Linked DNA regions of Homo sapiens: regions 1 and 2 are each reported to be linked to region 3. The links are microRNA targets in miRTarBase. Many come from high-throughput screens and were not tested one by one. Region 3 holds a microRNA gene; each other region holds the end of a gene's coding sequence.

The links. Region 3 holds the annotated microRNA hsa-miR-548k (AAAAGUACUUGCGGAUUUUGCU, at 1,503-1,524, shown strand). A microRNA usually pairs through its seed, bases 2 to 8, with sites in the 3' UTR of a target mRNA and lowers its output. Matches are read on the target gene's strand: a 7mer-m8 pairs with bases 2 to 8, a 7mer-A1 pairs with bases 2 to 7 and ends in A, and an 8mer does both.
Region 1: miRTarBase lists KLRC3 as a target of hsa-miR-548k. The part of its 3' UTR that is shown has no 7-base or 8-base seed match.
Region 2: miRTarBase lists TRIM74 as a target of hsa-miR-548k. Seed matches in the 3' UTR shown: 7mer-m8 at 732-738.

What each region holds. Positions count from the first base shown.
Region 1 is chr12:10,409,152-10,413,212 of GRCh38, reverse strand. It overlaps KLRC3 (killer cell lectin like receptor C3), which reads left to right. Exons shown (of 7, transcript NM_002261.3): 7 at 597-898. The coding sequence ends at 641. It overlaps KLRC4-KLRK1 (KLRC4-KLRK1 readthrough), which reads left to right and starts at 3,067. Exons shown (of 13, transcript NM_001199805.1): 1 at 3,067-3,114. KLRC4 (killer cell lectin like receptor C4) reads left to right here and starts at 3,456. Exons shown (of 4, transcript NM_013431.2): 1 at 3,456-3,824. The coding sequence starts at 3,638.
Region 2 is chr7:72,956,273-72,960,333 of GRCh38, reverse strand. TRIM74 (tripartite motif containing 74) reads left to right here. Exons shown (of 5, transcript NM_198853.3): 4 at 83-313; 5 at 426-849. The coding sequence ends at 452. LOC124901671 (a long non-coding RNA gene) reads right to left here. Exons shown (of 2, transcript XR_007060381.1): 2 at 2,956-4,061. Among named protein-coding and RNA genes, the nearest start is that of TRIM74, 11 kb to the left of the region's middle.
Region 3 is chr11:70,282,484-70,286,547 of GRCh38, forward strand. It overlaps MIR548K (microRNA 548k), which reads left to right and starts at 1,472; the gene lies at 1,472-1,587. All of the region lies in intron 2 of PPFIA1 (PPFI scaffold protein A1), which reads left to right.

The DNA of each region.
Region 1 (4,061 bases), not on the chromosome of region 3:
TCTGTTGTAGGTAAAATATAGTTAGAACATTTTCTATTAAACTGGAAATGTTCTTCATCCCTTTATAAATGTGGCTCATGTGGTGAGGTACTGGTTTTAAATGTTATTTATTTTTATTAATTAATGTTAAATTTGAATAGCTACATTTCAACTGTCTCCTAGCCAAGCTTGGCTAGCGGTACTACATTGAAATTGAGTATCCGTGTGAGTATATGTGTGTGAATGCATTCATATGAGTGATGGTTACTTGTCTAGTTTAAATCTTTCTATAGGCTCACTGGCCTGTCTTGTATTAAGCATCAAGAGAAGAGTCTTTAAAAATCCCATTTATGATTGTTTACTTGTTCACTTTATTCAACTATATGTTGAACTTGTATCATTAGGTATATGCAATGATAAAAAATATATTACTAATGGTTTGGAAAATTAATTTATCATTATGAAGTATATTTCCCCAATTTCAGTAAATTTCATCTCGGCTCACTGCAGCCTCGACCTCACCTCCAAGGCTCAAGCGATCCTCCCACCTCAGCAACCAGAGTAGCTGGCTACAGGCCAATACCATCATGCTGGCTAATTTTCGTATTTTTTTGTAGAGACGGGGTTTCATCATGTTGACCAGGCTGGTCTTGAACTCCTGAGCTCAAGAAATCAACACATCTTGGCCTCCCAAGTTGCTGGGATTACTGACACAAGCCACCGCCCCTGAGTGCTCATGTACCATTTAGCTTGTGTTTTAAAAATCTACTTTTTCTGCCCTCCCTATTTTTAACTAGATGATGTTTTAAAAATTACTTTTCCCTCTCTATATAGTTTGATTTAAGCATTAGTCATTTACAACAAATATTAATATTAAAATGCAGACCGTTATGATTGGAAAATAAATCAATGAACAATATAATGAGTGGTTTTTATATATTTCAATCTCTGGCGTGGTGATATAGTACAATATTTTTTAATTATTTATTCTTCCCAGAGACATATATTTCAATGAGAGTTATCTGATTAATTTATTTTTAAAAAACTGAATGAGAGAATTTTAAGAACTATCAAGAAAGTAAGTTGGGAATTTAACTTTGAGAATTGATGTCAATTACAATGAAGTGGAAATGTATTTTCTCAGAATAATTAGTGACAAATACATTAAATTCCTATTGGTAAGATTATTATTTTAAAAATTTATCGTCATATTAGCAGTGATATTATAGGGGTATATGATAAAGAAGTACGTAATCCCAAGTTTTAGCCACCCTGTGTAAATGTAGAAGTTAAACATGTAAGAGACTCTGAAAAAGGTATAAGATTTTAGTGTTTGTGATTGAGATGGAAACAACTGCATGGGTAGTAGTCTTTGTTCTCCCCAAATCTTGTTTACTATAAAAATAATTTCTAAAAGTCACTTGAAAATGGACAAACTAAATGACACCCTAGCAGCTCAGTCTCTTATATTCTGAGGTGTATGATGAGATAAACTGATTCAAAATGGCCCTAGTGTGAAAACTTCCTGTTCAAATCCGAAGTGATACATTGATGAGGAATCTGCTTTTTGCACTCTTGCCTCACTCTGAGCTTTCACAGGGCAGTCTGTGAAGATCAGAGATATCTGTTTTTTGTTTTTTGTTTTTTTCTGAGACAGAGTCTCGCTCTGTCGCCCAGGCTGGAGTGCAGTGGCTCCCGATCTCAGCTCACTGCAAGCTACGCCTCCCGGGTTCAACCGTTCTCCTGCCTCAGCCTCCCAAGCAGCTACAGGCGCCCGCCACCACACCCGGCTAAGTTTTTGTATTTTTAGTAGAGACGGGGTTTCACCGGATCACAGATGTCTTTTGTGTCGTTAAGAGGTAACCTGACCTCTCCACTAAGGGGCGTGTGACTTTCTGATGACAGAAGGTATGTGTTGCTAGTCTCCTGTTTCTCTACTAGCTCATCTCCTTTAGTAGAAAATTGTAAATATTAAATGTGATGCAACAAGGTAAAGTTAATACAGAATAAAATCAAAGTAGAACTGTCTGTACATGAATAATTCAGGGTGAAAAGCAACCCAAAATATAATATATGTTTGAGGATTTCTTAAAGTATTTACATTATTGCCTGTGGAGAATTAGTCAAGCACATGCATACATCATAATAGGTTTGTTAATCAATATAATTTAGAGTGAAACCGATAAATATCACGACAATGAAGAATTAATTTGAAATTTTATAATCATTATAGATGTAATAATACTTTATATTTAGCCCAGACTTTAAAAATGCATTTTTAATGGATACATCAAATTGTGAATGTCAAACATAATTTCTCATACACATACTTATATTTAATTGAAGCAGATTTTATTTTTTTAAGAATGTAATAATGAAGTAGTTTCCATAAAATGCAAATCTAAACTTAATTATAAATAATAGGACGACCTAAAAAAAATTGAGCCAAACAAACATTGCAAAAAAGATGTACTACACTGACATGAGACTCCTACCTCATTAGTTATTTTACACACTCAGTATGAATTAGAAATAATAAAATGGCAATTGTGTTAAAAATAATTAAAATATCTAATATGTATTGAGGACTAATGTGTGCCAGGTTGTATGTTAAGGGTTTTATATACATTATACTTCATAAATTATTTTCCCCAATCTAGATTAGTAAACTGGTGTTGTAGACACCAAGTAACTTTGTAAAGGTCATGCATTATGAGTTTCAAAGCTGTAATTAATTTTAGGTCTCACTGGCTACAGAGCTCATTGACTAGATTATTAAATTATATTTTCTGATTTATTACAATTACTTACACAACCAAAGTGACCCTCGCTGCCTTTTAAAACAACCACAGGGTCTTTCTGAAAGTTTGAACTTAAAGTGTTCTTTCATAGATGGTCCAAACTTATATTTATCATTTTCAGTTTTCCTATTTTAGTCATTAAATCAATTACCAATCAATTCTGTAAAATAAAGAGTTAAATCTTTTTCAGTAGTATTTAGTTTATGCATAAGTTAATGTAATGTTTTACAAGGTATAAAATATTTCTTTAAAATTTTAACAATTTTTCTGTTTTCCTCAATCATTCAGAATAAAAAACATTTGCCAAGACCTCATGCCCTTTTAGTAAACGAATGTAAGTCACTAACTTAATGTATTTTAGTATTAAAAGTTGTTCTATATGCCAACAAATTATTCCTCCATCTTTAGCGCTCAATCCTTACATTAATGAATTTTAAAATTGTCATACAATTAGTGCATTTTATTTTCAAATTTCAATTTTAGTTTTTTACACAGGTATTCTATTGGTGATAAAATATTTCTGTAGAATCTGATTTTAAATTAATAAAGATATTTATATTCAGTTACTTCTTAGTTTTCACAAATGTATTGTTTTTTATTGTTCCCATTAATAATATTATGTCAAATATAGAAGGCCTTTTAAAAAGTGACCTATTGTTTAAAGAGATTTCAGTTTAAAACTTTAGGAAATTAGTACCAGACTTTTATATTGGTCAACAGCAAAATGAACATTACTACTCAGCCTCCAACACATGCAGTTTGCCTATACCAGGGATCCTGTCAAAATATACACCACTTATAGCTTCTTAAGTGCAGTTATCATAGAGCACAGTCCCTGACATCACACAGCTGCAGAGATGAATAAACAAAGAGGAACCTACTCAGAAGTGAGTCTGGCCCAGGACCCAAAGAGGCAGCAAAGGAAACTTAAGGGCAATAAAATCTCCATTTCAGGAACCAAACAGGAAATATTCCAAGTAGAATTAAACCTTCAAAATGCTTCTTCGGATCATCAAGGGAATGACAAGACATATCACTGCAAAGGTAAAACATTAAATAGATCTTCAATATTATTGTTCTAGGATGTGCAGTTGAATGCAGAAAGGTGGGGAAAGATTAGGGAATATTTTGCACTTGTGAGAATCAGAGGTCAAAGTCAGGATCTAATATTCTAATATGAAATCTGAAGCCTGATTTTATTCAGGCATTGTTCAATTGTAATTTGTGATTAACAACTCATGGAGCATTATATTTACTGATAATGAAATGGTATATTCTGAG
Region 2 (4,061 bases), not on the chromosome of region 3:
GGCCCTGGGGACACCGAGGCCAGCCAGACAGAGCCTGGCAGCTCGGCTGTGACTCTGCAGTGAGCAGCCCTCCCTGTCCCAGAATGAGTCGGATGTCTTCAGCTGGGTGATCCGCCGCGAGTTCCAGGAGCTGCGCCACCCGGTGGACGAGGAGAAGGCCCGCTGCCTGGAGGGGATAGGGGGTCACACCCGTGGCCTGGTGGCCTCCCTGGACATGCAGCTGGAGCAGGCCCAGGGAACCCGGGAGCGGCTGGCCCAAGCCGAGTGTGTGCTGGAACAGTTCGGAAATGAGGACCACCATGAGTTCATCTGGGTGAGTGGACAGGGAGGCGTCCCATCCCCATACCCGCCAGGGCCTTCCCCTTCCCAACAGTGCCCTGGCTTCCCACCTTCTAGCCTTAACCTCCCTCTCTCTTGCCTTCCAGAAGTTCCACTCCATGGCCTCCAGGTAATAACCTTGGAGAGAGCTCAGCCAGGGTCTGGTGGCTGCGGGCACGGGCATCTCAGCTCCACTGGTTCCTCCATTCAGCTTAACCAGCGCCTCCCAAGCAGCTGCCTATAGCTGGCTCTATAACTGAGCCTGGGGAAGATAGAGGAAAGTCACGTCCCTGCCTTCAAGGGTCTCGCAGACAGGTGGGGAGGCAGATGGTGAACTGTGGGTACCTAGAACAGCAGAAGTTCACTCAAGCTACAGAAATACTAGAGGAGGGTAGCTCATGCCTGCAATCCCAGTACTTTGGGAGGCCAAGGCAGGAGTATTGCTGGAGGCCGGGAGTTCGAGACCAGCCTGGCCAATGTAGTAACACCCCCGTCTCTACAAAAAATACAAAAATAAAAAAATTAGTTGGGCATGGTGGCATGCGCCTATAGTCCCTGCTACTCATAAGGCTGAGGTGGGAGGATTGCTTGAGCCCAAAGTTTGATGCTGCAGTGAGTCATGATCATGCTACTGCATGATCCAGCCTGGGTGACAGAGCGAGACCCTGTCTCAGAAAACAAAACACTAGAGGAGGAGCAGGTGTCTGGGAGGCCTGGCAGAGGGGCACACGCCTGATGGCTGAGAAGGGCCCAGGACCCGAGTTTGCCAGGCAAGCCGAGGGAACAGTCCTGTAAAAGGGGGAGTGGCGTGCGGACTCTGGTTATGAGAAGTTCAGGGTGGCTGGATGTAAGGCAGGATATCAGGAGGAGTGGGAGCTGGGAGAGGTGGGAAATGGCCAGAAGCAACATCCAGGAGCACCAGGCATCCCTTGCTTACCGTCCTCACCCTTGCGCAGCAGGCAGTATCAGCCCTGCCTGAAACTTGCTCTGCAGATTGTGGGAAGAGAGCGGATCCATGTTCTAGACCCAACAAACGAACACGTGCAGTTCCCAAGCCTTCCTCACTCCCTGTTTATGGGAGACTCCTTGTTTCTCACATTTCTTTTAGTCTTAGAGACAATTTGGTCAGGAGACATGGGTTTAAATGAAGGCACAGAGCCTGGGCACAGCAGCTTACACCTGTAATCCCAGCACTTTGGAAGGCCAAGGCAGAAGGATGACTTGAGGTCAGGAGATCAAGACCAGCCTGGCCAACATGGTGAAACCCTGTCTCTATGAAAAATACAAAAATTAGCTGGGTGTGGTGGCACATACCTGTAATCCCAGCTACTCGGGAGGCTGAGGCACAAGAATCTCTTGAACCTGGGAGGTGGAGGTTGCAGTGAGCTGAGATTGCTCCACTGCACTCCAGCCTGGGTGACAGAGCAAGACTCCATCTCAAAAAAAAAAGAAAAGAAAACAAGAAAAAAAAAAGTCCGGGCATGGTGGCTCATGCCTATAATCCCAGCACTTTATGCTCAAGTCTGCTTTTTTTTTTTTTTTTTTTGAGATGGAGTCTCGCTCTGTCACCCAGGCTGGAGTGCAGTGGCACGATCTCAGCTCACTGCAACCTACACCTCTCAGGTTCAAGTGATCTCCTGCCTCAGCCTCCCGAGTAGCTGGGATTACAGGTGTGCACCCCATGCTCAGCTAATTTTTTTATTTTTAATATAGATGGGGTTTTGCCATGTTGACCATGCTGGTCTCGAACTCCTGACCTCAAATGATTCGCCTGCCTCGGCCTCCCAAAGTGCTGGGATTACAGGCGTGAGCCACCGTGCCCAGCCTTGAGTCTTTATTTTTAGAGACAGGATCTTGCTCTGTCACCCAGGCTGGAGCGCAGTGGTGCAACTGTAGCTCACTGCAGCCTTGACCTCCCAGGCTCAAGTGATCCTCCTGCCTCAGCCTCCTGAGTAGCTGGGACGACAAGTGTCTGCTACCATACCCAGCTAATATTTAAATTTTTAGTAGAGATGGGATCTTGCTATGTTACCCAGGCTGGTCTGGGCCTCAAGCAATCCTCCCACCTTGGCCTCCCAAAGTGTTGGGATTATAGGTGTGAGCCACTGTGCTTAGCCTCCCATAACCCTTTGATTCACGATACTCATAGGCTAAGTGGGTCCTGGAAGCTCCGGGGTAGCCTTCTAACCAAGATGCTGGCTCGGGCCACTGGAAGTCAAACTGGGTGCACAGACCAGTGAGAGGGCATGAGGGAGCCTAGCAGGGGTGAACAGCAACCCTCAGCCTCCCCACAGCCCTGCCTCTCCTCCTGCCTCTCCTCGGTCTCCTTTGAGGATTCAGCCTCTCGTCCTCACCACTTATGGTCTGAGGGCCTCCAGGCTCCTCTTCTGGCTGTCTACCCCTCCACACCCATAGCTCCAGTCATCACTTCCACAGGGATGACTCAGAAGTTCCCTCTCCGGGAGACCCGTCCCTTACAGGCCACATCCAGTAGCGCTCCAGCCATTCAGCAGCTCCGCCTGGACGTCAAGGGCATGTCCAAAACCGCGCTCATGATCTTCCTACTCCCCCATCCCTGAGATTTATCCTGTGGCTGTGGTGTCCTGTGGCTACTGTAACAAATGACCACAAACTTGGTGGCTTCAAACAAATTTAATCTCTCATGGTTCTGAAGGCCAGATGTCCAAGATCACGATGATGGCAAGGCCGCGCTCCCTCTGGAGACTGTCGGGGAAAACCTGCCCCTTTCCTCTTCAGCTTCAGGTGGTGGCTGCCATGCCCTGGTGTTTCCTGGCCTGTGACCGCATCATTCCAATCTCTGCCTCCATCTTCACGTGGCCTTTTCTGTATGTGCCGGTCTAATCTTCCTCTGCTTCTCTCTTATTTTTTGTTTTTTGAGACAGAGTCTCACTCTGTTGCCCAGGCTGGAGTGCAGTGGTGTGATCTCGGCTCACTGCAACCGCCACTTCCCAGGTTCAAGCAATTCCCTTAACTTAGCCCCCTGAGTAGCTGGGATTACAGGCGTGCACTCAGCAAATTTTTGTATTTTTAGTAGAGACGTGGTTTCACCATGTTGGCTAGGCTGGTTGTGAACTCCTGGGCTCAAGGGATCCACCAGCCTCAGTCTCCCAAAGTGCTGGGATTACAGGTGTGACCCACTGCGCTTCTCCCTATAAGAGAGGCCTTCCTCTGCCTCTCTCTTATAGGGATACTTGTGATGCCATGCAGGACCTGCCCAGATAATCCAGGATAACCTTCTCTCCAAATCCTTCCCCTGATCACTCCTACAGATCTCTTCCATAGAAGGTGACATTTCCAGGCTCTAGGAATTAGGACCTGCTCTCTCTGGGTGGCCGTTGTTCACTCCACCACCCCAGGTTTCCCCATCCTACCAAAAGACACAGCAGCATTGTGTCAACTGCCCAAACTGAAAACCTATGAGTTATTCTCGACCTGTCCTTTTTCCTGAGCAAGTTCTGTGGATTTAACTTAGCGGTCACACTGCCAACTTCAACCGAACTCCACTGCCACCAACTCAGTCCAGGCCACCAGTTCTTGTTTAGGTGACTGCCATGACCCCCATTGGTCTCTCCCTGCCTCAACTCTGTCCCCTCCATCCTATATCCCCACACTGTAACCAGACTGATTATTTATTTATTTATTTATTTTTTGGGGAAAGAAGCTTGCTCTATCCCCCAGGCTGGAGTGCGGTGGCACAATCTCAGCTTACTGCAACCTCCGCC
Region 3 (4,064 bases):
CTTGATCCCATGTATGTTTCCTTTTTGAGTGCTGATTTTTTTTTTTTTTTTTTTTTTTTTTTTGAGATGGAGTCTTGCTCTGTCACCCAGGCTGGAGTGCAGTGGCGTGATCTCGGCTCACTGCAAGCTCCACCCCCTGGGTTCACACCATTCTTCTGCCTCAGCCTCCCCAGTAGCTGGGACTACAGGTGCCCGCCACTACATCCAGCTAGTTTTTGTTTTGTATTTTTAGTAGAGACAGGGTTTCACCATGTTAGCCAGAATGGTCGCGATCTCCTGACCTCATGATCCACTGCATGCCTTGGCCTCCCAAAGTGCTGGGATTACAGGCGTGAGCCACCGTGCCTGGCTTTTTTTTTTTTTTTTTTTTTTTAAGAAGGAATTTTGCTCTTGTCGCCCAGGCTGGAGTGCAATGGTGCGATCTCAGCTCACTGCAACCTCCATGTCCCAGGTTCAAGCGATTCTCTTGCCTCAGCCTCCTGAGTAGCTGGGACCATAGGCGTGCATCACCATGCCCGGCTGATTTTTGTATTTTTAGTAGAGACGGGGTTTCACCATGTTGGTCAGGCTAGTCTTGAACTTCTGACCTCAGGTGATCTGCCCGCCTCAGCCTCCCACAGTGCTGGGATTACAGGCATGAGCCATCATGCCTGACCGACTGACCGAGTGCTTTTTTTTTTTTTTAAAGCAAATATTGCCTTTGGGCTTCTCTCTAATTTCATTTTAAAGTTTCAGTTGCATTTTCAAATGGAGATTTTATTTTAAACTGGAGTGCAGTGATTTTTACAGTCTTTTTGAAAGCAACAAATGAGATTTTTAGAAGACCTCTTGCTTGAAGAACTCTTTTGTGTGAAACCTAGAAGAGAGACTGTTCACCTTTCATTGCAGGTGAGGTCCCAAATTTTGCCAGTCTCTCTCCCAATCTGCCAATCCCTGAAGCAGGGGGTACAAAACTCAGAAGATTCTAAGGAATGAGGTCTTCAAATCAAATCCAAACTTAGTGAAAAAGAAGTCTACCTGTGTCAGGGGTGTTCCCTGTCAAAGTGATGGGTGAGCTTCAGCTGGTTGCAGTGGAAGGTGTGCTGGATGGATTGAGGAGGCGAGAGGGTGCAAGACAGCCCATTTAGGAGGCAGTTCCTGCAATGTGGGCATGAAGTGTTACAGCCCAAACTAGGATGCTAGAATCCGAGGGCAGAGGGCAGTAGAAAAGAACAACCTGGCGGAATTGTGTAGGACTAGAGGATGACAGCCGAGTGGCAGATACCAGGGTCAAGCTTGCGGGGAGAAGGGGGACGGGGGTGGGGGAGAGTAAAGAGGAGACGCTGGTGTTTGGTGGTGTTGAGAGGTATTTGTGGTTGTCACAGCTAGGGCAGGGATGCTCCTAAACATTCTGCAGTGGAGCCCCCTCAACAAAGAATTATCTGGCCCCAAATGTTGGAAGTGTCCAGGTTTAGGTATAAAGAATCAGAAGCTTTTCTCAAGTATTGCTGTTAGGTTGGTGCAAAAGTACTTGCGGATTTTGCTTTACTTTTAATGGCAAAAACCGCAATTATTTTTGCTTCAACCTAATATGATGCAAAATTGGCTACAACTGTAATTTGTTGAGTGCTGCAAACAAGGTACTTGCTAAGCTTAACTTTAGTGAACAAATTAGGAAGAATTGGAATAAGGTAAAACTAGCTAAATGACTCTTCCCTGAGAATAAATACTAATGACTGCCCCTTCAGATGGTGCCCCCTCATCTGCTTTACTGACTGTTTCTTAGTAGTAGTTGGCAAAACACCTCTTAAAATACCATACTTGTTTTCATCGTCTTTGGTGTATGAAATAGTTGAATATATCCTTTCAGAATAATATTTGGCCATTTACATCTCTCTTTTGCACACACTGAATTTGCCATCTTGTCTTCCTGTTCCTACACCTTTAATTGTCAGCAAGGAGACAGAGTCCTTCCTCCTATTTTGTTGAGCCCTGTGTGAATATTACCGTTCTAGGCTCCTGCAGTCAGTGGTAGAGACAGGGTCTCTGCCTGCAGAAGACTTTCACAATATACCCATGCTCAAAGCAGGTGCAGGTTGCGAGACACATCCAGATAGAATGAAGTGGTTCAGAAGAAATCCATGATCTCGACTGAGTGGGGTGGGCTGCCAGGCACACTGTGGTCCAGAAAGGTGAGGCTTTCGAGGGGATTGGCTTAGAGCTGAGGGATGAAGGCTAAGAGGAACCAGGTATGAGAGCTTTCTTGGCGGTGGGGCTACTTGAGCAAAGGCCAGAGCAAGGGAGAGCTTAGCATTTAGCTGAGTCAAAGCTGGGGTCTGTGGCCATGGTTACTTGGCCTGGAGGGAAGGGAAGAGTGAACATGGTAAGGTTGGCTAGGTAGGTTGGGATGGGATCAGACAGAGGTGAAGACTTGCTTGTTTTTGTTTTAAGTACCTTAGGGCTTCAGTACTTTGCGTGCATCGTGGCCTCAGGGGAGGGAATGATGTGATTTAGCTGCGTTGTTATTTATTTATTTTTATTTATTTATGTATTTCTTTATTTAAGATGGAGTCTTACACTGTTGCCCAAGCTGTAGTGCACTGGCATGATCTCGGCTCACTGCAACCTCTGCCTCACAGGTTCAAGCGATTCTCCTGCCTCAGCCTCCCAAGTAGCTGGGATTACAGGCGCCCGCCACCGTGCCCGGCTAATCTTTAGTAGAGACGGGAGTTTCACCACGTTGCCCAGGCTGGTCTTGAACTCCTGACCTCAGGTGATCCTCCCTCCTTGGCCTCCCAAGTTTTTAAAAGATCATGCTATGTGGATAATGAGCTGGGGATGGAGGGAAGAATGGACCTAGGGTGGAAACCACTGGTTAGAGTAGAGCCACTTCAAGTGCATGGGTTTGGGCTATAAAGTTAGTGCTGTGAGCAAAAATTAAAAACTCTTGCCGGGTGCGGTGGCTCATGCCTGTAATGGGAGGCCGAGATGGGCAGATCACGAGGTCAGGAGTTCGAGACCAGCCTGGCCAACATGGTGAAACCCTGTCTCTACTAAAAATACAAAAATTAGCTGGGCGTGGTGGTGCGCAGCTGTAATCCCAGCTACTCGGGAGTCTGAGGCAGGAGAATCGCTTGAACCTGGGAGGTGGAGGTTGCAATGAGCTGTGATCGCACCACTGCACTCCAGCCTGGGGGACAGAGTGAGACTCTGTCTCAAAAAAAAAAAAAAAACCTCTTAACATCACCCATCACATAAGGCACAGAACAATGTGTACTTTTTAATTATCATATACATAAATGCATACTGTTTTCATGCAGTATACATAATGTTTATGTATATAGTGTATACATGAATGTATTCAGGTATTTTGAGTGTCTGTATGTGGCATGCACCGTTCTAGGTGCTGAATATTCCATAGGTAAAAAGGGTTATTTAGCCCACATTTTTTTCGTTGTATGAAGAGAAATGGAAAAAACCAAACTTACATAGTTCGGTTTGAGCAAGTTAAATGCATGGATGATGTAATGTGGGAGCACTTTCCACTTTTCGTTGATGTTTGTGTAGGCAGAACTAGGGAGGTGGTTTTCCTTGGGAGTTTCAGCTGCCCACTGTACTCCTCCACTCTTGGCCACTGTGCCTCGCAGGTGCCTTACCTGACTGCCATGCTGTGTACTTTCATTTGGGCAGGCTTTGGGCTCCTTAAATTCAATATTGGCTCAAACCATCTTTCCCCCGCATCCGTACCCCATCCTGTGAACGGTAGTTTTCTACGTAGTCAGGTGGCTATGTCTCTTCTTTTCTTTTGAGATGGAGTCTCGTCCTGTTGCCCAGGCTGGAGTACAAGGGCACAATCTCAGCTCGCTGCAATCTCTGCCTCCCGGGTTCAAGCGATTCTCCTCCCTCAGCGTCCCAAGTAGCTGGGACTACAGGCACATGCCACCGCGCCCTGCTAATTTTTGTATTTTTGTAGAGACGGGGTTTCACCATGTTGGCCAGGCTGGTCTTGAACTCCTGACCTCTGATGATCTGCCCTTCTTGGCCTCCCAAAGTGCTGGGATTACAGGCGTGAGCCACTGCTCCCG